2 separate regions of the Homo sapiens genome follow, and region 1 is linked to region 2. The links come from fine-mapping of genetic effects on gene expression. A gene starts in region 2. The other region holds a variant in brackets. All regions are shown on one strand. Distances are from middle to middle. Region 1 overlaps ITPR1 (inositol 1,4,5-trisphosphate receptor type 1). Region 2 holds the start of ITPR1 (inositol 1,4,5-trisphosphate receptor type 1).

Region 1 (11,102 bases), 320 kb after region 2:
TTTTTTTGTTTTCCAAGTTTTCTCCATTGAACATGTATAATTTTCCAATTAGAAGAAAGCTTTTCTTTTATATAAATAATACTTATTGATTGTTTTAAAATCAGAAACTATAGATGAGTGAAAAGGAAAAAATCGCTTGTCATTTCTATGATTTGGAGCCTGTGTAATCTCTGCGGTCCTTAACCACAGAAAACAAGTGCCATTTGTTTGTTGTCTGAAGTTGCGCTTACTTGCCACTTTATATTGAGCTGCTGGAAAACATTTAACCAACATTAACAGCAACACTTTGCCTTCTGTCATATTGTATTGACTAAAATCCCTCTTCCTTGCTTCCCTTTAAGTATCCTACTCTACCCAATGCCCTTCACAGAACTAGTCTCAGAACACAGATTGGTGTCAAGGAGGCAGAAAAGCCAATCGACCGGAAAATGACCTCAGATGAAAAATTCTAAATTGGAAGGGACTCAGAGATCAGCTGTCTCAGTCCACTTATTTTACAGATGAGGAAACAGATCCAGAGAGCTTAGATGGCTTGGCCGACATCTTGCAACAAATTAAAAGCAGTCAGGATTCAACCCTGTCCCCTGACTCACTTCATGGTGCAGTCACACCCCAAAGCCACAGTGGAGACCAAACCTTCTGTACAGGATTAGACAGCAGCCAGAGGCCATGCTAAAAACTAGCCTCAGGTCTAAGAGTAACTTCAGAGAGCTCTCTCCCCACACTCCCCACCATTCTCCCAGTCAAGTATCTGTGACTGTAGCTCTTGGAAAACTAGCCATCATCCTCCCATACCTATATGTACCTACAAGGATCCTCCATTCCTCAGGAAGCCAACTTCTTGCAAAGAGCAGGTTCCTTAGCAGAGGGCAAGCCTGGATTGTGAAGGCACTGTGACCTGCAGGGGTCTTACCCTCGCAATGTTAACGTCACTAATGTCCCTGCGATACACCAGCTATGTGACCCTGCCCCAGTCTCTTGATCAGGAAATTGATGATAATTACTATTTACTGTACTTACTGAGCATATGGATGCCAGTGTGCTAAGCACTGTGCGTACGTGGTTTACTTATTCTTCATAACAACTCTACATCCTCCAGTCTGCAAATGAGGAAATGGAGACTCAGAGGGGATGAGGAAAGTGCCTAGCCCGAGATCATACGGTGGACAGTAGCTGAGCTGAGATTTGAATTTACATCTAAGTCCAGAGTTCTTGCCACTGACGCTGGCTTGTAGTACGTCTGCCTTCCCACCAGACACTGGGCTGCAGGAGGGCAGGGACCAGGGTGGCTGGCTCTTCATAAACTCAATTCAGTACCTTCTAAATGAATGGATGCCAAGACCCTCATCACTTTCCTCTCCCTTTGTCTCTGAAACTCATTGGCACAAGCATGTATTTTCTCTATTTCCAGTCCCTCTAAATGGCTCTGGATACTACTTGAAGTTGCTATTGTTTCCTGCTTCCTCTTCTGTGTTTATTTTTCCTCATTTTTACCATCTCCGTTTCACTGTGAAGCCAGGGAAGATGTTCAGTGTTAAGATCATATGTAGTGCTTTTGAGTGTCTAAGAGGGCAAACTCTCTATAAACCAAGTTTGCATTATGGGATAGTGATGTACATCTAACATCAAGGCTTCTTAAAATTCTTTTTGTTTGTTTTCAAAGCTTTTTGATTTAGTGTACAGAGAAGAGACTTTGCTTAATGTCATTAAAAGTGTCACTCGCAATGGACGGTCCATCATCCTGACAGCAGTTCTGGCTCTGATCCTCGTTTACCTGTTCTCAATAGTGGGCTATCTTTTCTTCAAGGATGACTTTATCTTGGAAGTAGATAGGCTGCCCAATGAAACAGCTGTTCCAGGTGGGTTTGGGATCTTCTGATCTTTTTAATGCTAAAAGATTATTTCCTGATTATAACTGAACTAAAGAAAATAACGACTTTAGTAATGCAGATATCTCCCCATTGTATCTCCCTAACACGCAGAGTGTGAATTTCAAATACAGGTCTTCATTCTCACAATGAATGTGGCAATGTGGCATATCAAATGCTAAGAGTGGGTGACCAGATCTGACATTTATTTATTCACTAACATCATCTTTTAAACTAGTGCAACTTTTTTGTAAAGCAGTGACCATACATATTGAGAGCGTTGGAGTATGCATCCCTTTAACTGAGTAAATCTACTTCTAGGATCAATACTTAAAGAAAAAAAGGCTGCCGACTGTGCACGTAGAAACAGACATATATGGGAGAACGTTCGCTGCAGTGTACAGTTGGAAGCAGTGTAAATGTTCGGGGGTGTTTCATCAGATCATGGTACATCCATGAGGTGGGGTGCCTTGCACATAGGTACATCTTTAGAAACCTCCATGGAAAAATACCCACAAGATGTAGTTGGAAATGGCAGAAGGATAACTATAGTAGGATCACATGTATGTCTTTTTTTTTTTTTTTTTCGAGACAGGATCTCACTCTGTCTCCCAGGCTGATGTGCAGTGGTATGATTTCACCTCACTGCAACCTCCAACCTCCCGAGCTCAAGCAATCCTCCCACCTCAGCCTCCCCAGTAGCTGAAACTGCAGGCGCCTGCCACTGCATGTGGCTAATTGTATTTTTTGTAGAGATAGGTTCTTGCCATGTTGCCCAGGCTGGTCTCGAACTCCTGGGCTCAGGCGATCCCCCAGCTTTAGCTTCCCAAAGTGCTGGGATTACAGGTGTGGGCCACTATGCCTGGTCTTATGTTTTCTTAAAAATTAAAAAGCCCATATACATATATTAAAACATGGATGACTGTACCTCCAGACTGCTAGCAGTAGCTCTCTCTGGGGCTTTTTTACTATATGCAGGTTTTACAGTGAGCTCATGTTATTTTTACACATAGCAAGAACAGAAGAGATTTCCAATTCTGAGAGTGAAAAAAAATGACCATAATACTTGAATGGTACCCAAGTGCCCTCTTCTCTCAGTTACAATAGTTGGCCCGACTTAGTGAAATACTACTGGTTTTTCATCCCGAGTCTAAGAAACAGACTAGAATCGTTGTGGCTGACTGAGCCAGCCAGCCTTTGTGCTCTCCCTCCCAAATGCTGTGTTCTTGGCATGTATCTCCAGCCTCCCAAGTTGACACTAAGTGACATTTACTGCCAGCCATCTTAGAGTTGTGGACTAAACTGGCCTGGACCTTGGATTTCTATTAATGCCTGCTAATGCTTCTCGTGCAGACTTGGTATAAATCTTGCCAGAGTCTGTACGTTCAGTAGTATCTGTCTAAGAGTTTCAGCTGTTTGTCTTTAAAGTTGGAGAGGTGCTATTTAAGTGCGATATTTCTAGTAAGCCTACAGGAATTGACATTTTTGGCTTTTTTCCCATCCAGATCACCAAATGAAAGTGTAAATTGCATTTCTGCTTTGAATTTATATGCAAGATTCTAGGGTGTTATTTATGTAAAGAATTGTTTAATCAGCCGTGAATTGGGGACTTCAAACATTTTAACCATATGCTGCCAGATTGTTCATCATAAAATTTCCTTCTCTCTCCCAGAAACCGGCGAGAGTTTGGCAAGCGAGTTCCTGTTCTCCGATGTGTGTAGGGTGGAGAGTGGGGAGAACTGCTCCTCTCCTGCACCCAGAGAAGGTAGGACCTCCTAACTGTAAGCCCCATGTTAATATCGGACTCCTCCAGAGGCTTAGCTGATGCAGGTGATGTTGGAAGAAGATTAAATTTACTGCTCAGGAGTAAGGCTATAGCAAAGGGGAAAGGCTGAGAAAGAGGAGGGAGATGAAGGGAAAAGAAGGTTACACCTGAAGAAAAGATCTGATGTGATTCAGCCGATTTATACTGAGTGCCCGCCATTTGCCAGGGACTGTGGTGTACTCTAAGAGACAGTAATGTAGTGGAGGGTGCGGGCAGGCCAAATGGTGATTGCTAGAGAGTTGCCCAATGCTGGGAATAAGGATGGAATACAGAAGTTAGGCACCCGGCCTACTACTGGGCTAAGCGTATCATCAAGAAAGTGATATCCAAACTATAAAAGGAGACTCTTGATATTCCAAGGAGAGGGAATAGTACATCTAAAGGCTTTAAAGGTAAAAAGAAAAAAACAGCAAGTTTGGGGAGATAATGATTATAAGGAAGGAGAGTGGCAAGAAATGAAGCCACAGATACAAACAAAGGGCTAGATCATGAAGGATCTTCTATGTCAGGCGTAGGAGGTTAAACTTCGTCCAGAGGATGGTCAGGGGTTGTTGGAAGATGAGTGATGAAATCTGTGTTTTAGCAAGACCCTCTGCAGCTGGAGAAAGGAATGAGGCACACAGCAAGGCATGGCTCTTACTGCATAAACCAGTGAGAATGAACAGCCTCCAATGTAAAGCAGTTGATCCAGAGGCCCTGCCGTGAAATATCCCTGGATATAGTCCTCACACCATTCCCAGTGAGGAACCTG[T/G]GTCCTGTGGCATAACCCTCATCTGAGAGACAAGAGGCCTGTGACTCAGAGTTGCGAAGCAACTCATCTGACATGAAAAGACTGTTTGCGGCTGGGTCTGGGGTTTAAAACCTGAAAAGGACAGGGCATGTTTTAGATCCCACAGAGGGAGAGCAATACTACCATAGCTGGAGAAATTAGCGGGGGTTAGCGATGAAAACAGTTGCCCCAGACGACTTTAGCTTTTGAAAGAAAATAAGAAAATTCTTGGCTCTTGATTCCTTAATTTTATTCTTTCGTGTGCCTGGTGAGATGGCATTCAGGAAACAGGATTTCAAAATCCCGGTCTCTCTTTTCTCCTCACGTTTTCTCTCTGTTGTTACTTGCCGTGTTCACAGAGCTGGTCCCTGCAGAAGAGACGGAACAGGATAAAGAGCACACATGTGAGACGCTGCTGATGTGCATTGTCACTGTGCTGAGTCACGGGCTGCGGAGCGGGGGTGGAGTAGGAGATGTACTCAGGAAGCCGTCCAAAGAGGTAAATTAATCCCGAGGGGAAGGAAGGGCAAAGGGGGCGGGTGGGGTGGTTGGTGGGAGCACCATGCAGCGGTGTTGAGTGTAAACTGAAGACGCAGAGGAAGAGCTGGGAGTAGGGCTGAGTAGCTGCGGAACTAGCTCATCAGGCTCCTTTCCTCTCTATCACGTGAGGTGGTGCCGCAAAGTCAGCTGCGTGGAAAGGGTTGGCTTTGGCTCTCTGTTCAGTAGACTTAGGGACTGTTTCCATCAGGGTTAGGCCTGATCCACCTGAACGCACAGTGAATATCCCTCCTGGCTGTGTCACACCACACTTGGAGAAGTCGCAATTGAGACAGGGGACATGAAAAGAGATGCAGTTTTCAGTTTAAAAGTTGAATGCCCAATTTAATTTCTACCCAAGTAGATGAGGTCTCACTTGAGCTGTGCCCCAGGCTCCGCAGACCAAAGGGTCGCAAGGGACCCAGACTGATCCAGACACCTCTCTTTTCCAGGAACCCCTGTTTGCTGCTAGAGTTATTTATGACCTCTTGTTCTTCTTCATGGTCATCATCATTGTTCTTAACCTGATTTTTGGGGTTATCATTGACACTTTTGCTGACCTGAGGAGTGAGAAGCAGAAGAAGGAAGAGATCTTGAAGACCACGTGCTTTATCTGTGGTGAGTGTCGCTGGCCAGCTCCAGCAAGGGCGTGAAGGCCCAGCGTGGCAGAGGCATGTGGATACTGCGAGGGTGTGATGGGCGGGGTGCCTGCCCAGTTATGCGGGAGGGGGCACCGGCTGCTGCTTCGTCTTGACTCTTCTACCCTCTGCCGTGAGTGAGGCTCTCCTTGGCCTTTATTCTGCTGGGAAGTATTTACAGACCTGGGTTCTGACTGAGCTTCTACCACTTAACTAACTGTGTAACATCATTTAGTCATTTAACATCTTTAATCCTTCTTTCTTCATCTGTAAAATGGGTACAATAACATGTCCTTCTCTGCATTATTGTGAGAATTATGAGAGACAGCGTATGTAACACTCCTAGCTAGAACCTGGCACACTATAGGCACGGGAGGAGAAGTAGTGAACGGCTACGTAAAAGAGGTGCATGGACACCAAACAAATCATTTTCAGTATAACTACAGGAAAATATTTGTAAATGTAAACTAATCATGGAGGAATCTGGGGAGCTGAGTAATCATTTCAGGATTATTCATAATATAGCTACTAAATATATAAATTTCCTAGTGGTATGTATGCTAAAAAAAAAGATCAGTTTCCAATTAAAGACTTAAATTCTTTGCTTTTTGCCCCCTTAAAACCTTTTTAAGCTTTTTGCTTTGGCATAATTTCAGAGTTATAGAAAAGACATGACTATCCAAAGAATTTCTATATATTCTTCACCCAGAATCCCCAAATATTAATATTTTATCTCATTTGCTTTATACACACACACACACACACACACACACACACATTTTCTAATGTGAGTGGCTGACAGTGATGCTTTCTTATCCCTAAATATTTTAGTACACATTTCCTAAAAACAAGAACATTCTCTTGTGTATCTACAGTATAATTATCAAAATTGGGAAATTAAAACAGATCCAATACTGTTATCTCATCTACAGACCTTATTCAAATTTCACCCTTCATTCCAATAATGTCCTTTGCAAATCCCACCTCCTGCGGGGCTTCAGTCACCATGCCTCGTGAGCCTCCGCTGACACTGTTGAAGAATGTAGGTCAATTATTTTGTAGAATGTCCCTTGATTTGAGTTTGTCTGATGTTTGCTCATGGTAAGATTGAGGGTATGTATTTTCCACAGGAATATCAAAGACATGCTGTTGTGTTCTTCTCATTGCATCGTATCAGGAGGCATGTAATGCCAGTTCATCTTGTAACTAGTATCTCGGCTCACTGTAACCTCCACCTCCCAGGGTTCAAGCAATTCTCGTGCTTCAGCCACCTGAGTAGCTAGGATTACAGGTGCCTCTCACCACAACTGGCTGATTTTTTGTATTTGAGTAGAGATGGGATTTCACTATGTTGCTGAGAGGCTGGTCTTGAACTACTGAGCTCAGGCAATCTGCCCGTTTTAGCTTCCCAAAGTGTTAGGATTACAGGCATGAGCCACTGCGCCCAGCCGTGATACTAACGTTGATCATTTGGTTAAGGTGCTAATTGCCAGGTTTTTCCAGTAACTCCATAAAGTTACTTTTTTGGAGAGACACTCTGTAAATATCGTGCTATTCCTTAAACTTTCACCCCTCAGCTTTAGCATTCATTGATGATGCTTGGCTAACTCTATTATGATGATGGTTGCCCAATGATGATTTTTATGTTATTATTATTTCTACATTTCTTTATTGGCTTTTTATTGTAAGAAAGAATTTTTTCTTCTCCCCACATATGTGTTTATATTTCTGTGTTTGTATTTGTAACTACATGGACTTGTGGATTTTTATTTTATTCAATGGGCTATTTATTTTGATGTTCAAATTGCTTCAGATGTGGCCAGTGAGAGCCCTTTCCAGCTGACTCCTGGGTTTAGTCATGTCATCATCGTTTTCTATGTACTTTCTTACTTTTTTGGCATCATAATATATTCCAGGCTTAGGCTCACCTTGTACATTTCCTGAGCCATCCCTGGAATCAGCCATTTCTCCAAAGAGCCCCGGTTCTTTTTACTGGAGAAAGGTATTTAGAAGCCAAGATCTGGGGACTGAGTGTGCTCATTCCTGTTGGTGTGCTGCTGCTCTCAGGGCTTATTAGGGTGCAGATCTAGAGGAGAGGTGTATGCATCTGCATATGTGTGTATGTGTACACAGCACATGTATCTGCACACATCTGTGTATATATGTATGAAAAAGGATGAATTCATACTGATACCTTTAATTCCGTTTCAGCATTACAGGGTTTATTCTTTCTCCCTTTCTCTATTTGTGTTCTTTTCTCAGGCAGTGAGGAATCCAGCTCCCATTATCCGTGATATATTTATTTGATCAATCCTAGAATACGTACAGACTAGAATTGCTCACCCCGGCCTCTTCAAATTATAAACCTACCAGCTAGAGTTCAAAATTTGTTTAAAGTTCTTGTTGTCCTTACTTATTCTGTCTCCTCAAAAAACCTTAACATGTCTGCATTTTGGCATTTACCTGGGCGAAGGGACTTCACATTCCCTGGTTGCATGCAATATGTGAGAGTGTCACACACATTCTCATTTTACCCCTAAACACTCCTGGAACCTAGACGGCGGTCTCCCCATTCACTAACAAGGCCACTAAGGCATGTGGAGATGAAGCAGCAACTGCCAAGTGGCAGAGGTGGGATTCAAACCCAAGTCTGTCTGACTCACAGCCTGTGTTTTCCTGCCATAATGTAAACATGAATGTACTTATAAGGCCGACAGAATCCAACTCTTTATAAAGACAGGAGTGAAACCACAGCCCCCTTTCTACTGACAGTTCTGTTATTGATTTTTTTTCTTTACCAAGGCTGCTCAGCTGGGGCTGGGGGCTTTTTGTCTCATTTTTAGGCTTGGAAAGAGACAAGTTTGACAACAAGACTGTCACCTTTGAAGAGCACATCAAGGAAGAACACAACATGTGGCACTATCTGTGCTTCATCGTCCTGGTGAAAGTAAAGGACTCCACCGAATATACTGGGCCTGAGAGTTACGTGGCAGAAATGATCAAGGTGAGTGGAAAGGCCTCCTGGGAGCAAGGTGGACTTGGGGCCTACTCAGCTCTGAGCAAGGCCCCAGCAGCCCATCGGGGAGCTGCACAACAGAAGAATAACATCCGATGTTGCCTGAGCCCTTCTCACGGATGGGGCGCTGTGCTCTGTGAACTTCGTGTGTTCTCTGGAGTGATCCTCAGAACCACTAGATAGGTGGTATTGGCCTGTGTTAGTGGGGGAAATGTTGAGCCTCGGTGAGATTAGCACGTGACCACGGAACTGGGGCTGGGATTTTAATCTGGATCAAACTCCATAGCCCGATTTCCTGTCGCTATGTGAATCTGCCTCTTTTCTTGATAGTGCTTTTTTCCCCTTTCTTTTTAATTAACACCTACTCTCTAAGAGGTGTCTTAGAGGCAAAGTGACTGCTCACTGCAGTCCAGCATGGTTTGTGTTTGCCCTCAGCCTCGCCTTTCTGGGAGACACTCTACTAATCGTTAAGAAGTGATCATATGATGGAGGAATTTGAGTTCCAAATTAATCTTTTCGCTGATGGGAAGTGTGGATACTGTGTCCCAGGAAGCGGGGAAGCTGCTTCAGGCTGTTAGAGAACACTTCTCGGGCAGAGTTTGCTGAGACACCAAACGTGCGCTGTGGGTGTCCCGGGCCAGCTGTCCTTTCAGACCTGTGCTTTCCGAACATCATTAAAATGTTCAGGGGTGGATAGTGGCGTGAGGAGCATGAACTGTGAAATCGAGGGAGTCTCTGTGATTCACGCTGGCTGCCTCTGAGGAGAAGGGGCCAACTCTCCTTCCAGTTACCAAGGACTTGAGTGCTCGGCCTGATAATGACTTACCCTAAAGGAGCCTGCTTTTTACCTAGATGTAATTTTCAGGCTTTTTATGTAAAGATACTGGAAGTCAGGTCTGTTCAGATAAGTATCATCATTGACAGGCCTAGAGGCAGCCAGGCTTTCAGTTTTATTGCCAGCAGGGCAGCGATTACGTGGTTGTGTTTGCTGAATACCCCGATTACAGAGGCACAGAGGCCTCTCCTAGGTTCTGGAGGGCTTTCTGGAGATTCTGTGCCGTCTGTACCCTTGAGGTCCTTAGAGTTGAATTCCATGCTTCTCAAATTTTATTGTACATATGAATCACCTGTGGAGCATGTTAAAATTCACATTTTGACTCAGCAGTCACTTCCAGGACTTGAGATATTCTGCATTTCCAACAACCTTCCAGGAGATGCCGAAGCTGCTGGCCCGGGAATCACCCTTTAAGTAGTAAGAGCCTCACAGAGGAGACAAAGCAGATGCTTACTTAAGATTACTCTCAGAGGGGTTGTGCGAATGATGAGGAGAAATATTCCTAATCCTTTACATACATTTGGCCCTCTTCGGTTTGTAAAATCCTCTCACCTCTAGTATTGTATTTGGTTGTTAAAGTTACGCTCCATGGGGAACCCGGAGGAAGGGACTTCTGGGATGGGGAGAGATGGATGGAGGTTCACGGCAGAGGTAACTTTTGAAAAAGGTTTTGAAAGAGAGGATGAAGTCACTAGGGTCATAGATTAGCAGAAAGAAAGGAGAAAAAAAAATCAGCACAGACTGGGGAGAAAAAGACACAAGTTGCAGAATGCTGATGATGGCTTATCCCTTTTACAGATAAAAGCCAGGCTGGGGGTTAAGTGACTTCCTAGGAACAGTTCAGAAGGAGCTGAGCCAGAATTCAAACCAGGCTTGGCTGACTGTAGAAATCGCACTCCATAATCATGTCGTTGATAGGAAACCGGGAGGGTGCTGGTGATTCTGGGAGCAGACTCCTATTTTTAAGCAGCTTAGGGATTCTGATGGGTGCCAGTGTGGATTTCCACAGGTGAGGTTTCCAGGGTCAGGACACATTAACTGAAAAGTCCTCAGTTCCCTTCTTTTCCTCCAATTGTTGAAACTGGCAAATTAAACCCTACTCGATCAGCATTTATACTGACACAGACCTGTCCACATGCACAGATAATGACCTTCATTTGCATTCGATGTCTTAATGTCTAGAGGAGGCCTGTACTGTTCACCCTTGACTTATGTTCCTTCTCACCCCTGACTTTGTTCTCTTGTCTCTGAAGTGTTTGAGTGGGTCCTATCTTTACATCTTCCAGGGGCCAGTTTTGAAGTTTTCTCTTAATCACCTTACTTTCCGGTCACAGAAAACTCTGGCACACTTTTGGGTTTCTGTCTCAATCGTGGAGACTTAAAGGCGTCTTGTGAGCAGTCACTTGATAAGGATTAAGAGCCAGAGTGACCTGTAGCCCGCCACCCACCCAACCCGGTCAGAGCCTGCTGCGTGGCAACACTCTGAGGGCCTGGGTGTTTGGTGTGCTTTCTCCATCCACATCATTCTTTGATTATATGAGACATCTTGTCAGAAAACCTAAAAATCTTACAGCATCAAGGAATTCTTCTCTGAATGTTAAAGTTGTTGCAGAA
Region 2 (11,102 bases):
GCTAATTTTTATATTTTTTGTAGAGATGGAATTTTGCCATGTTGCCCAGGCTGGTCTTGAATTCCTGGGCTCAAGTGATCTGCCCACCTTGGCCTCTCAAAGTGCTAGGATTATAAGCTTGAGGCACTGTGCCTGGCCTATCTAAATAAATTATTATACTGGAAGCTGCAAATTTGCTAATGTTATTATTTCTTCTACATGTATTAGCTGAATTATTCTGTAAGGAAGAGCTTTATGTTTTTTCTTTGATACACAGATTTCATTTCAGTTTAAACACTAGGATAAGACAAAAAAGCCTTTTCCAAGATTTCTTCAAGTCCCCAGATCTAGCTTGTCTACCAGAGCAATTTAGGATGACAGTCTTGCAGATGGGAGGCAGGAGATGGGGTAGTTAATAATAGACCCCTGGCTCTGCATGTTTTACAGGAAAATAATGAATAAGAAAATAATAGTTCTCTTTACTTGCTTACATGATTCTAGACAACACTGGCAGCAATCATCAGAGATGGTATAGCAGCTACTTCCATATTGCATAGAGTACTAAGAATTCTTAATTTTTGCATTATTTTGTAGTTATCATGCTGCCTTCCAGATTTTAAATTATTGACATTTTGTCCATGTTCCCTCCACTCACAAGGTGACTGACCAGCAGTTTCTTCCGCACTTCAGAGATAGGACAACAAAAATAGGCCCTCTTGCTGTGTCTTCTCTCATTCTCACAGGATATCTAGAGCCTGGATTCAGAAAACATCTTACTTTCTATAGCTCCATACCAAGTCGTCCTCTCTCCTGCCCTTGTTCGAATAGCAACTCCACTTTTTCCATGTCAAGTAGGGTTGATTAAGTGTCTGTAGGTCATTTCTTCTGGTCATCTTTGTAAGTTCCAATTAGCCAGTAAGTGCTGAATGCTTACTCTGTATCCAGAGCAGAACAAGATGCTGCAAAGGGTCCTACATTTATAGGACTTAGTCCCTATCTTCAAAGAGGTTATCTGAATGGTGAGACAAAAATCACCGAAAAATACAGCTAAAAGATAATCTAGTCTTGTGGGAGTATCTATGAATGATTTTTAGAGGACTGGTACAAGAAACTTAAGAACTGGTGCAGAAATTTGCAGTATCTGTGTTGTGCTGGGGCAAGTGCCCATGGATTTTGTGAGTTTCCACGAGGGCTGTGACTCTATCCCTCCACCATAAAACATTCACAATGACCAAGAGAGACTAGTTGGACTAGCTATGCAGTAGCTATTTGTCTTTGCTGATGTTTTCCATGGTCAATGGTAGTCCATCACATTAGATAATATAGTGTCAGTGCCAAAATATAGATTGAATTCTATGATTGGGTGTTGGACATTCTTTCTTGCCATTTAAGTGTCATTTAGAGTTATTAATTAAAGCACTCAAGGCTCATTGTGACATTCATAGGTGATTCTGTTCTTTTTTTTTAAATTTTTTACAGGTACATAGTAGGTGTATACATTTTGGGGTACATATTTTGATATAGGCATGCAATGTGAAATAAGCGCATCATGGAGAATGGGCTATCCATCCCCCTCAAACATTTATTCTTTGAGTCACAATCCAATTACACTCCATAGGCAATTGAAATCTTATGCCTGAGAGAAAATTGGGAATAGTGCTGCCCCAATAATCTGAAGTTTGGTTTGGAACTGAGTACTGTATCAGGACGCATCAACATTATCTCCATTCTTGTCAATAATATTCTCTTACTTTAGTATAGCGAGGGTGAGTTTGCAAAGCCCTTTCATGTCCTATGACCCATTGACCCAGTGAGATTGACAAGGCAAGGATTGTTAGTATCACTTTATCAAACAAAACAAAACAGGATATAAATGGTACAGCTGGGTGTCAAAACCATTTTCTCCGATCCCTCCTTTCTCCAGCTTATCTTGCTCTCTTAACCAGGGCAGCATTTGAGGTGGGCTTCTAGGCAGATGAATTCAGTTAGAGTTTTCAGCTGTGTACTGCTGATGAAACCTGCTTCTATTTGTAGGTCTTCCCTGGGGGTAGGCTCAAGTGCTAGTTTTGGACTTTCTTCAGACTTCTGCTCAGTCTATGATACTGTACTGACCTTGCAAAGCCCTCGTAGTTCCCTGCATGAACATTTCAAGGGCAAAGTCATAAATGGCCATTTTAATGGGCTGGTCATCATCTCGAATTGTGATCCTGGGAATCAGATTCTTGGTTTTCTAGATCAGTGCTGCATAATATATGATATGAGCTATACATGTAATTTTTAATTTCCTAGTAGCTATATTAAAAAAGGAAAAAGCAGGTAAAATAAATTCTAATAATCTATTTTATTTAACACAAATATCCAAAATATTACCACTTCAACATGTAATCACTATACAAATTAAGATATTTTGCTTTTTTTTGTACTAAGTCTTTGAAATTCAATGTGTTAACATCTATTTCACATCTCAGAACTAGCCACATCTTACGTGCCTAAATGGCTAGTAGTCACTATACTGGAAAACACAGGGATAGAAAATTCTTCTAGAAAAAAATAGTGAAGAGAAAGCAGCTCCTTTCCCTCTACTGATAACAGAGAATGAGTTAGGCAGTGACCCTTATATTCTGACATTAATCATCATAATTTATCAGTCATACATCATCATAGAGAACCTCTTCACATCATAGCAAAATTACTTTCTAGTGACCTAGCAGCTTCTAGACCTTAAAAATGTTGAATAGGATTATCCATACATACAGGCGGAGAAAATAGGCTATGATAGAGATGGGCTACGAGGTGTTGCATGCTCCAAAAATATGGTCATGTATCCTGCCATATGCCTGACACACCTTCCATTAAAACATCTTCTTAACAAACTTTTTTTTTTTTTTTTTAACACATCTACTAAAATGTGCAGAAAGAAGAATAAGTCCTTCTGGGTCAGGGGAGGTAGAGAGCACAAGCATGAATAAGACATAGATGCTGCCTTCAGTGAAATTTGTGGTCTCCGAGGGAAGACAGTGGATAATGCAGGTAGGAGATAAATGTCCATTATATGATGAAAATGAAAATTGTCCAACTGGATCTTCAGAAAACCGCTGTTAATATTCCATTGTTTCTGAGTTAGAAGCACATGAAATAATTACCCTTCACTATTTACCAGTTACACAGGCATACACTGATTTGTTGAATTTGCTTGAAAAGTAGAGCCGAAGATCCTTTGAAAATGGAAGAGGTTTTCATGGGGGAAGAGATGAGTGGGGGCGAATGAGAAACATCTCCTTTATATGGCAGATGCGGCAGTTTCTTGATGATGGGGAGAAGCAGCTTAACGTATTAGGCACTAGACCCCAGCGTCCAGTGACCAGGGGATAATGCTGACAGGGAACGGAGGGCAGGAGTGAATATCGTGAACACAAACTTTGTCTATTTCAAGAGCTTTGCCCCTTCCTGGACTGACATTAAATGCTTATCTGAGCAGGCAAATACAGTGCACATGTTTACATTGGGGAGGTAGCGGAGACTAGTAGTTTAGGACCAGGGTTCAAGACTCAGCTATTTGTGTGACTTTGGAGGAAGTAATTTAATCGCTTTGTGCCCCCCCTCAGTTTTCTCATAAGTAAAAAATGGCTTAATAGGATTTAATTAGGTGCTATACAGAAAGAGTTTAGACCAATGCCTGACACATGGCATTCACCCAATAAGTGTCAATAATTATGATTCGTTTTGGCATTATTATGTCAGTAATAACTATTAGCTATGATTCTCCTCTAATTTGTTCCTAAAGTTTCATGAGACTCGATTTTATATTAAGGAATCCTGCTAAAAAGTAGACATATTCTAATAAGAATTTCCTTCAGATGGCAAAACTGGGGCAAAGAGATGAAAATGACTTGCCCAAGGGCTCAGAGGCTGCTCCTAAATGGGGAGAGAGGCTATTTAAGGCAATGGCGGTGGATTTCCCCAAAGACAAGGGTTTCATACACGTAGAGTCTGGAACGGGAGTCCAGGCTGTACCACTTAACTCGAGGGGTCATTTGGGAAGTTACCTGATTTCTCTGAGCCCTGGATTGTGCACCTGCCAAATAGATATAATAAATATACCTACAGTTGGTAAAACTCAATAGCATGACGCATGAAAACTGCATGTGGTCTGGGCTCAATAAAATCAGCCTCCCCATTGATTATTATCATTATTATTACTATTGTTATAACAGATCTTTAGGCGGCGTCAGGAAGTGCCTGTCTGGGATGCTATAATGCGTTTGGCTCACCACTATGCCCCAGCGCCTGGCACCTAGTAAACACTCAGGAAACGTTTGAGGAATGAATATACGTCATTTGAGGCAAGACAGGGCAGTCGGCTGACTGCCTCCGGGCTTAGCTCTTCCCCTCCTTGCAAAAGCCGGAGCCCTAAGCAGCGTGTAGCCCGGGAGCCCAGGCATTACTTGGCAGCGGGTGAAACCCACCTTGCCCCATTCGGAGCTCTTGGAGAGCGCCCCGCCTGGATGCGCATCTCTGTGTGAGCGGCTCTTTCCTAAGCCCTTATTTTTCTGGTTTGCGGTTTATTTACTTAAGCATTTACAGCTCCCAGGAGCAGAGGGGCTGCTAGAGGTACGGTCAGGACTGAGGTCGCGGTTTGTATTTATTTTCTGCCTCCCAATCTCAGAGCCGGCAAGTCACAACACGGCTCCTTTATTTGTGCACCGGAGAGGTCTGCCTTTCTTTACCTCCTCACGGGCGATAAAAGACAAGCAACTCGGGCTCAGAAAAGTGCTCTCACGCGACTTGCCTGTGTCTCCGCTTGCGTGGACCGTCGCTCCCAGGCTTGGTTTCTCGTGCAAACCCGAGCAGGGCGGAGCAGATTAAATAAAGACACCTCGCGCCTTTAATCCTTGACCGCAAACACTGGCGTTTTTGTGCCCCGGATTTCTGAAATTCTTGGCTCGGGGAACCAAGGCAGGGGGAGGGTGGGCTTGTAAAAACTTCCCAAAGCAGAAATCCGAGCTCCTAGCCCCTCCCCGGCCCCAGTGACACCTGGATTCCAGGGAAGGGGGGCAGCCGGAGGAGAGGCGTCCCCAAGGGTTGCGGGCGCTTCCCAGGGGTGACTTTGAACGGCTGGCTCCAAGCCCTACCGACCCCAGCCAAGGAACAGGCTCAGCAGCCTGAAAGCCTCGCAGGACGCCCCTCCCCTGTCCCCGCACGCGTCTATTTAGGGCCCAGCCCGGGCGCCCAGGGGATTCTGGGACTTGTAGTCCCTCCCCGCAGCCTCAGGCGCCGCCACGACCCGCTACTTGGACTACATTGCCCAGGGAGCTTCCCGGCCTATATAAGCCACCCGGAGCCGCTTTAAAGTGCAGTAACCATGTGGATGTGCTGCTGAAGCGTTTCCTCAAGCTCGCTGGGGTGGGAGGAGAGGAGGAGGAGGAGGTGGTGGTGGAGGAGGAGGCAGGGGGTGGAGAGAGAGAAAGCGCACGCCGAGAGGAGGTGTGGGTGTTCCGCTTCCATCCTAACGGAACGAGCTCCCTCTTCGCGGACATGGGATTACCCAGCGGCTGCTAACCCCTCTCCTCGCCCTGCTCCCCCAAACCGGCGTGGCTCCCCGGGCACCAAGGTAGCGGCTGGGGCCGGGCAGAGGGCGCGGGGAGTTGGCACTGGCTCCCCGGGCGCAGAAGTTTTTGCCCCGCTCTCGGGGAGATCTTGATGGATGTGCATGCACTTGGCATGCATTTGGGGGTTCCTTTACTGCGGGCAGTTGTTTTGGGGGGAGCTCATTTGAAGCTTAAAAAACAAATATCCTCTACTCTAGTGCGTGGCTTTGGGGGCTCCCCATTCTGGTCTGATGTGGCATTCCCCCAAGTTGGAAACTGTTGCTGCAGCTGCAGGAAATAGTTCTTTTTTTTTTTTTTTTTTTGAAGAGAGGTTGTGGGGGTGTCATATGTGAGTCTGCTCAAGGAAATAATCTTTCTAAAAATGTATCCCTCTCTTGCGCTCCGTGGTTGGGAGAATAATGCATGTGTAGGGGCCCCCCGTGGGGAGGGTTTTTAAAAACGGAAGAAAACCGGAGAAGCGGTGAGGGATGAAGTGTGGACGAAGCTCATGTCCAATGAGGATGCGGGCTTCGGATACTTGGCCTTCTCGCCGGGAAACAAGTGCTTTGGGATCTGCCAAACACTTCCCTTAGTTCCAGCCTCCCGCACGTTCGAAGTTTGTGCGTGCCTAGTCTCAATTGTCAGTTACATCCTGGAAATAAGTAAGCGTAGTTACCTGGAATCTTCGCCCAAGCGATCCCACCAACCTGCCTACCAAGTTTGGGGGCGGGGGGGCTGTCCCCAGTGAAGGAGGCTAAAGAAGGTGGAAACTTGTAATTTGGAGCATTTCTGTTAGAGCTCATCTTCCGCGGTCTGGTACTCAGTCTTCTTTCTTTCTAAATATTTAGGAGCTGACTACAGAGGAGCAGGATTTGCACCCCTCGCTGGGCTTGCTTTGGCAACAGAGTGCCTGACCCAGGTCAGGTGAGTGTGGAAGCCTGAGTGCTGTAGTCAATAATGAGTTTTTGTCCTAAGCCTATTTTAAGTTCTATCTAAACCGCCAAGGAGGTGGGGAGTAAGAAAGAAAAAGAAACTCCGTGGCTCAGTCTTCAAAATTTGCCTCTGCCTTTGGTGAGGGCTTTTGGGAGCAGAGGTCCAGTGGACAGTCCGTTTCTTGGAAGTAGCTGAGAATTGAAGGAGCCTGAAAGTTTATGAGAGAGGAGGGGAAAAGGCCATTAAATGGAGCAATAAAACGGCGGCCCATTGCCGGTCTGAAAAGCATGCTGATGATTTAAATTCTGAAGGATACAGTGCATTTCATATGCCAAAATGTGTAAGCAGTATTAACTGCCTCTCTCCTTCAAGAAATAGTCACTCTTTTCTAATTTTGAACGTGTGCTTAATCAGAGTAGGTTGGATTGCAAGAAATGAAAGTGGTTGCTGCAAGTTGAAAGAATTAGAACTTTAAAAAGGGAAGTGAGTTATTGAAGCTTAAGGTGGTAGCATCCAGCCCTTGACTCAAGCCACCTGAGTGTCAAGGAATCTGGCAGGTCCCTGTTGTTTTGGGGCCCGTGGTGGAATATGAGCTGAGAGCAGCATTTATCTGTAAACACAACAGTTCCTATTTTTTCCCCAAAATGGTCAGACTGCATTTGAAGAGTGGGAGGTTTCAACGGGTGCACGTACATCACTATTGCTGCAGATTTGGCTATCAGGAGTTTTTTCTCCTGAAATGTTCAGGAACATGGTAAATAACAGGGTAACAGAGGTAGGTGGGGGTGGGTGGCTGGGTCTTAATAACTTTTTTAACATTCTAAATATTTAGCTGTTCCCTGGGCTACAATCTTTGGGCTTTTCTAATGAGAAAATAAAAGTCAGACACTTCATTATAGTGGTATAGTGCTTTTGTTTCCTGTTGATAAGATCCTCAGGAGTACTGGCGGAGTGAGAAGCATTTGGATGTGAGAACTCTAGTTTCTTCTTGGAGTTCTGTTGACTCACATGGCTGTGTGGGTGCTCATAGAGCCAAGGATTAGGCCCAGTTCCCCTTTTCAGAATTAGCTGTACAGCAAGGAAAAACTGGTCCACAGACTCTTTTCTAACTGGTTGCTAAAAATAATAAGATGGACACATTAAGTACTTGTAAGCCAGGTCCAGAGCCATGTATCTCAGAAACCCTGTGCGTCAGATGCAGGTGAAGAAACTGAGGTGCAGAGAGTGAAATCACTTGCCCAGTAGCTAGTACAAAGTAGGAGCAGGGTGTAACCTCAGGCGGTGAGGCTGTACTGCATCCCACAAATGGACCTCAGTTGATTTGGGGATGCTGGTGGTGAGAGGGAAGCTAGGAAAAATGGTAAACTTACTGCTACTGATGAAATAACTTGCATACCTCCCACCAATGATGAAATAATACATAACATTGATGTAAGAAGGAAAGGATGTAGCCACAAACATAGGGATAAAAGAGTGCAGATATTTGAGGAGGTATTAGATACTGTAATGAGTTCATTTTGGAAAGCCTGAATGGGGAGAGTAAAAAGAAACAAAACCACAAGGAACATTATGTAAGTTAAGCATTAGGCTCACCTCCTAGCTGAAATACATCTTGATTGTTTACATCAAAGAATCTGAGTAGGTTAAAAGGATCAGGCGTTTCCCCATCTGAATAATTCGAAAGTTTAAACTGCAGTTAGACTGCAATGTGAAATGTTGATACCTTTTCATATACCTTCCAGTTTGCTTTGCAGCCAGTTGTGCAGACGTTTTTGTTCTCCATTTTTTCTTTCAAGTTCATGTGTGTGTGTGTGTGTGTGTATGCATATGTACACTGAAAGTACAATCTGCTCTTTGAATAATTCAAATCAGAACAGAAAATCCTTTCAAGATATCATTCTTATCAGGCAGGGAAAGTTCTTCATGTTCTAAGTGAATTACTCTGGCTCTTGCCTTGAGACCCATGAAAGTCATTTGGGGTTGACAATGGTATCTATTTAAACCAAGTGATTGTCTTTTGGAGGGAATTGGCATCTTTTCTTTAGGAATGAGAAGTGGAATGGTTGCTTAGAAAAAAAGAGATAGATGAACTCCACAGAAAGATCAAGAGTCTTTTCTTCAAAATATTTTTAAGTGAGGAAGATCAGGGTGTTGGTATTGCGGGGAGGGAGGAGAGTGGGCAGAGAGAAAGATAAAAAAGAAACCTTTAATCCAATGGTGTGCAACCAACTGACTTCCAGAGGGGGGAATATCACATGGCTTTTCAACTCATTTATAAAGATATCATGGAAACTGTCTGATTTCTTCATGAGCAGCTCTTAGAAAACAAACAAAAATAAAACAAACACCAAATATGAACAACAGAAAAAAACAGCCAAAATAAAAGTAGGCCTGGAGTTAGGTTTCTAGGTCAAGCTGTCTTTGGCTACATCTAATTAAGGAGTCTCCACAGGGCCAGTGTCTATCTTGTTTACTATTGGTTTGATTTTTAAAAATAAAACACATTGCATTTGCAGGCTGTCTGTTAACCAGAAGTCCATGCAGTTTTTTTTTTTTCCATTTTTGCTGTTTTAAGTTTGTGCATAGCTCAATTGATGAATGCAATTAAGGCTTGAAGTCGGTGATGTGAATGACATAACTTCTATGATTCCTTACAATTCTCTTGGTTTCTGTGGTTCTGAGATGATTGCTAATGAGAATAAGCCAGATACACCACTGAAACCGTCACCCATTCAACTTTGAGATTTCTAAATTGGATGTAGTTTAAGGCACATGGTGTGGTAAATCTATTTAACAGACTCTAAGACCTGTTCAAGTTGTGTGCGATTCAAATGTTTTATTCTTTATTCAACAAATTTCTTGAGCACCTGCTATGTACTAAGATGTATTCCAGGTGCTCAGGATATAGCAATGAACAAACCATCCCGTTCCCAAGAGGCTTACATCTCAGTTGGTGGGAGGCAGCCAATATAAATAAACAAGTAAGTATTATAGTATTAGAGGTAGTAAAAGCTATGGAGAAAAAGAAAACTGGTTAAAGGGGGAACAGAAAATAACAAGTGGAGAAATTAGATCCCTTGTGCATTGCCGGTGGGAATGTAAAATGGTGAAGCTGCTGTGGAAAACAGCATGGCAGTTACTAAAAAAAATTAAACATAAAATTACTATATGTCCCAGCAATTCCACTTCAAGGTATATACTTTAAAAAATTGAAAGTAGGGACGTGAGCAGATATTTGTACACCTGTGTCAGTAGAAGCATTATCACAGTAGCCAAAAGGTAGAAACAACACAAGTCTACTGATGAATGAACAGATAAAATGTGAAATATACATACAATGGAATATTATTCAGCCTTAAAAAGGGAATTCTGACACATGCTACAATGTGGATGAACCTTGAAAACATGCTAAGTGAAACAAGCCAGAAATAAAAGGACACATATTTTATGATTTTTCTTATAGAGGCATCTAGAGTAGTCAGATCCCTGCAGACAGAAAGTAGAATGGGGATTGCTGGGGGAGATAGAAGACAGGAAGGGGGAGTTAGTGTTTATTGAGGATAGAGTTTCAGTTTGGAAAGATGAAAAAGTTCTGGAAATGGATGGTGGTGATGTCACACAACAGTGTGAATGTACTTAGTGCCACTGAGTTATAACATTTCAAAGTGGTATATTTTATGTTATGTATATTTTACAGTAATTTTAAAAAGCAACAAAACATGATGAGGGGTATTAAGGGAGTACTCAGGTGGGGATTAGATCTTTACTACATGACATCTCAGCACAGATCTGAAGGAGGCAAACGAGTTGACCCTGTAGCTGTCAGGGAAAAAGTGTGTTCCAAATGTCAGAGCAGCAAGTACAGAGGCCCTGAGATAGGAGTGTTTGTGACATGTTGGAGGAAGGAGAAGAAGGCCAGGGGAGAGTGCTAGGAGTTCAGGAGGGAGAGGGAGTCAAGGTCCAGACCTGTAGGGACCAGATTTTGCAGGTCAACAGTGGTTTATCTGAGGACTTGTAAACTCTCACGGAATTCTCAGTGTGGTTTTCAACATCACAAAACTACATTGTCCTTTCTGAAGAGACTCTGGTAAGGTTGGCAGGATCACATACCAGATGGGAACTCGATAGGGGGTAAAACCCAGATTTCTGGACTGTCTGGTTAATGACAGGACTTACCTGGAGTTGTAATTCACTTCAGTAGAAAAGGAAAGTTTGACAAATAGGTGAACGTACAGTTGACTTGGAGAGCAAATTGTAAGAACATAATGATAATCCTGGAGTTTCAACACAAACCTATGTCTTACCGCCACCCTGCGTTGTATCCAGTGTCGTTTTAAGAGATATTTACAAGGAGGACTAATATTCTGCTCTCCAGCATCCTTGAGGAATTAGAAGCTTCACATCAGTGATTCTCCTTAATAAGTGAAGTGGACCCCTGCACATGTGCAAACTTAAAGCAAACCTCAAATTTTGTTACTTATTACATAAGATATACATATTCATGTAGCACACACCTTGGACTCGGCTACTCAGGGGACGGAGGCAGGAGAATTACTTGAGCCCGGGGGTTTGAGGCTGTAATATACTATGATTGCATCTGTG

The links. PIP is the estimated chance that this variant, and not a neighbour inherited with it, causes the effect.
Region 1: its variant is fine-mapped to the expression of ITPR1 in skeletal muscle (GTEx, PIP 0.98).

Annotation. Positions count from the first base shown.
Region 1 is chr3:4,809,602-4,820,703 of GRCh38, forward strand. ITPR1 (inositol 1,4,5-trisphosphate receptor type 1) reads left to right here. Exons shown (of 62, transcript NM_001378452.1): 56 at 1,664-1,859; 57 at 3,541-3,633; 58 at 4,822-4,961; 59 at 5,452-5,617; 60 at 8,481-8,641. LOC124906209 (a long non-coding RNA gene) reads right to left here. Exons shown (of 5, transcript XR_007095795.1): 5 at 4,691-4,830. Among named protein-coding and RNA genes, the nearest start is that of EGOT, 64 kb to the left of the region's middle. RefSeq lists an enhancer at 4,474-5,673 and a silencer at 8,495-8,881. The variant T/G (reference allele first, on the strand shown) is at 4,445.
Region 2 is chr3:4,488,016-4,499,117 of GRCh38, forward strand. ITPR1 (inositol 1,4,5-trisphosphate receptor type 1) reads left to right here and starts at 5,333. Exons shown (of 62, transcript NM_001378452.1): 1 at 5,333-5,590; 2 at 6,416-6,491. ITPR1-DT (ITPR1 divergent transcript) reads right to left here and starts at 5,148. Exons shown (of 2, transcript NR_108075.1): 1 at 4,769-5,148; 2 at 2,302-3,353. RefSeq lists silencers at 5,402-5,671, 6,970-7,264.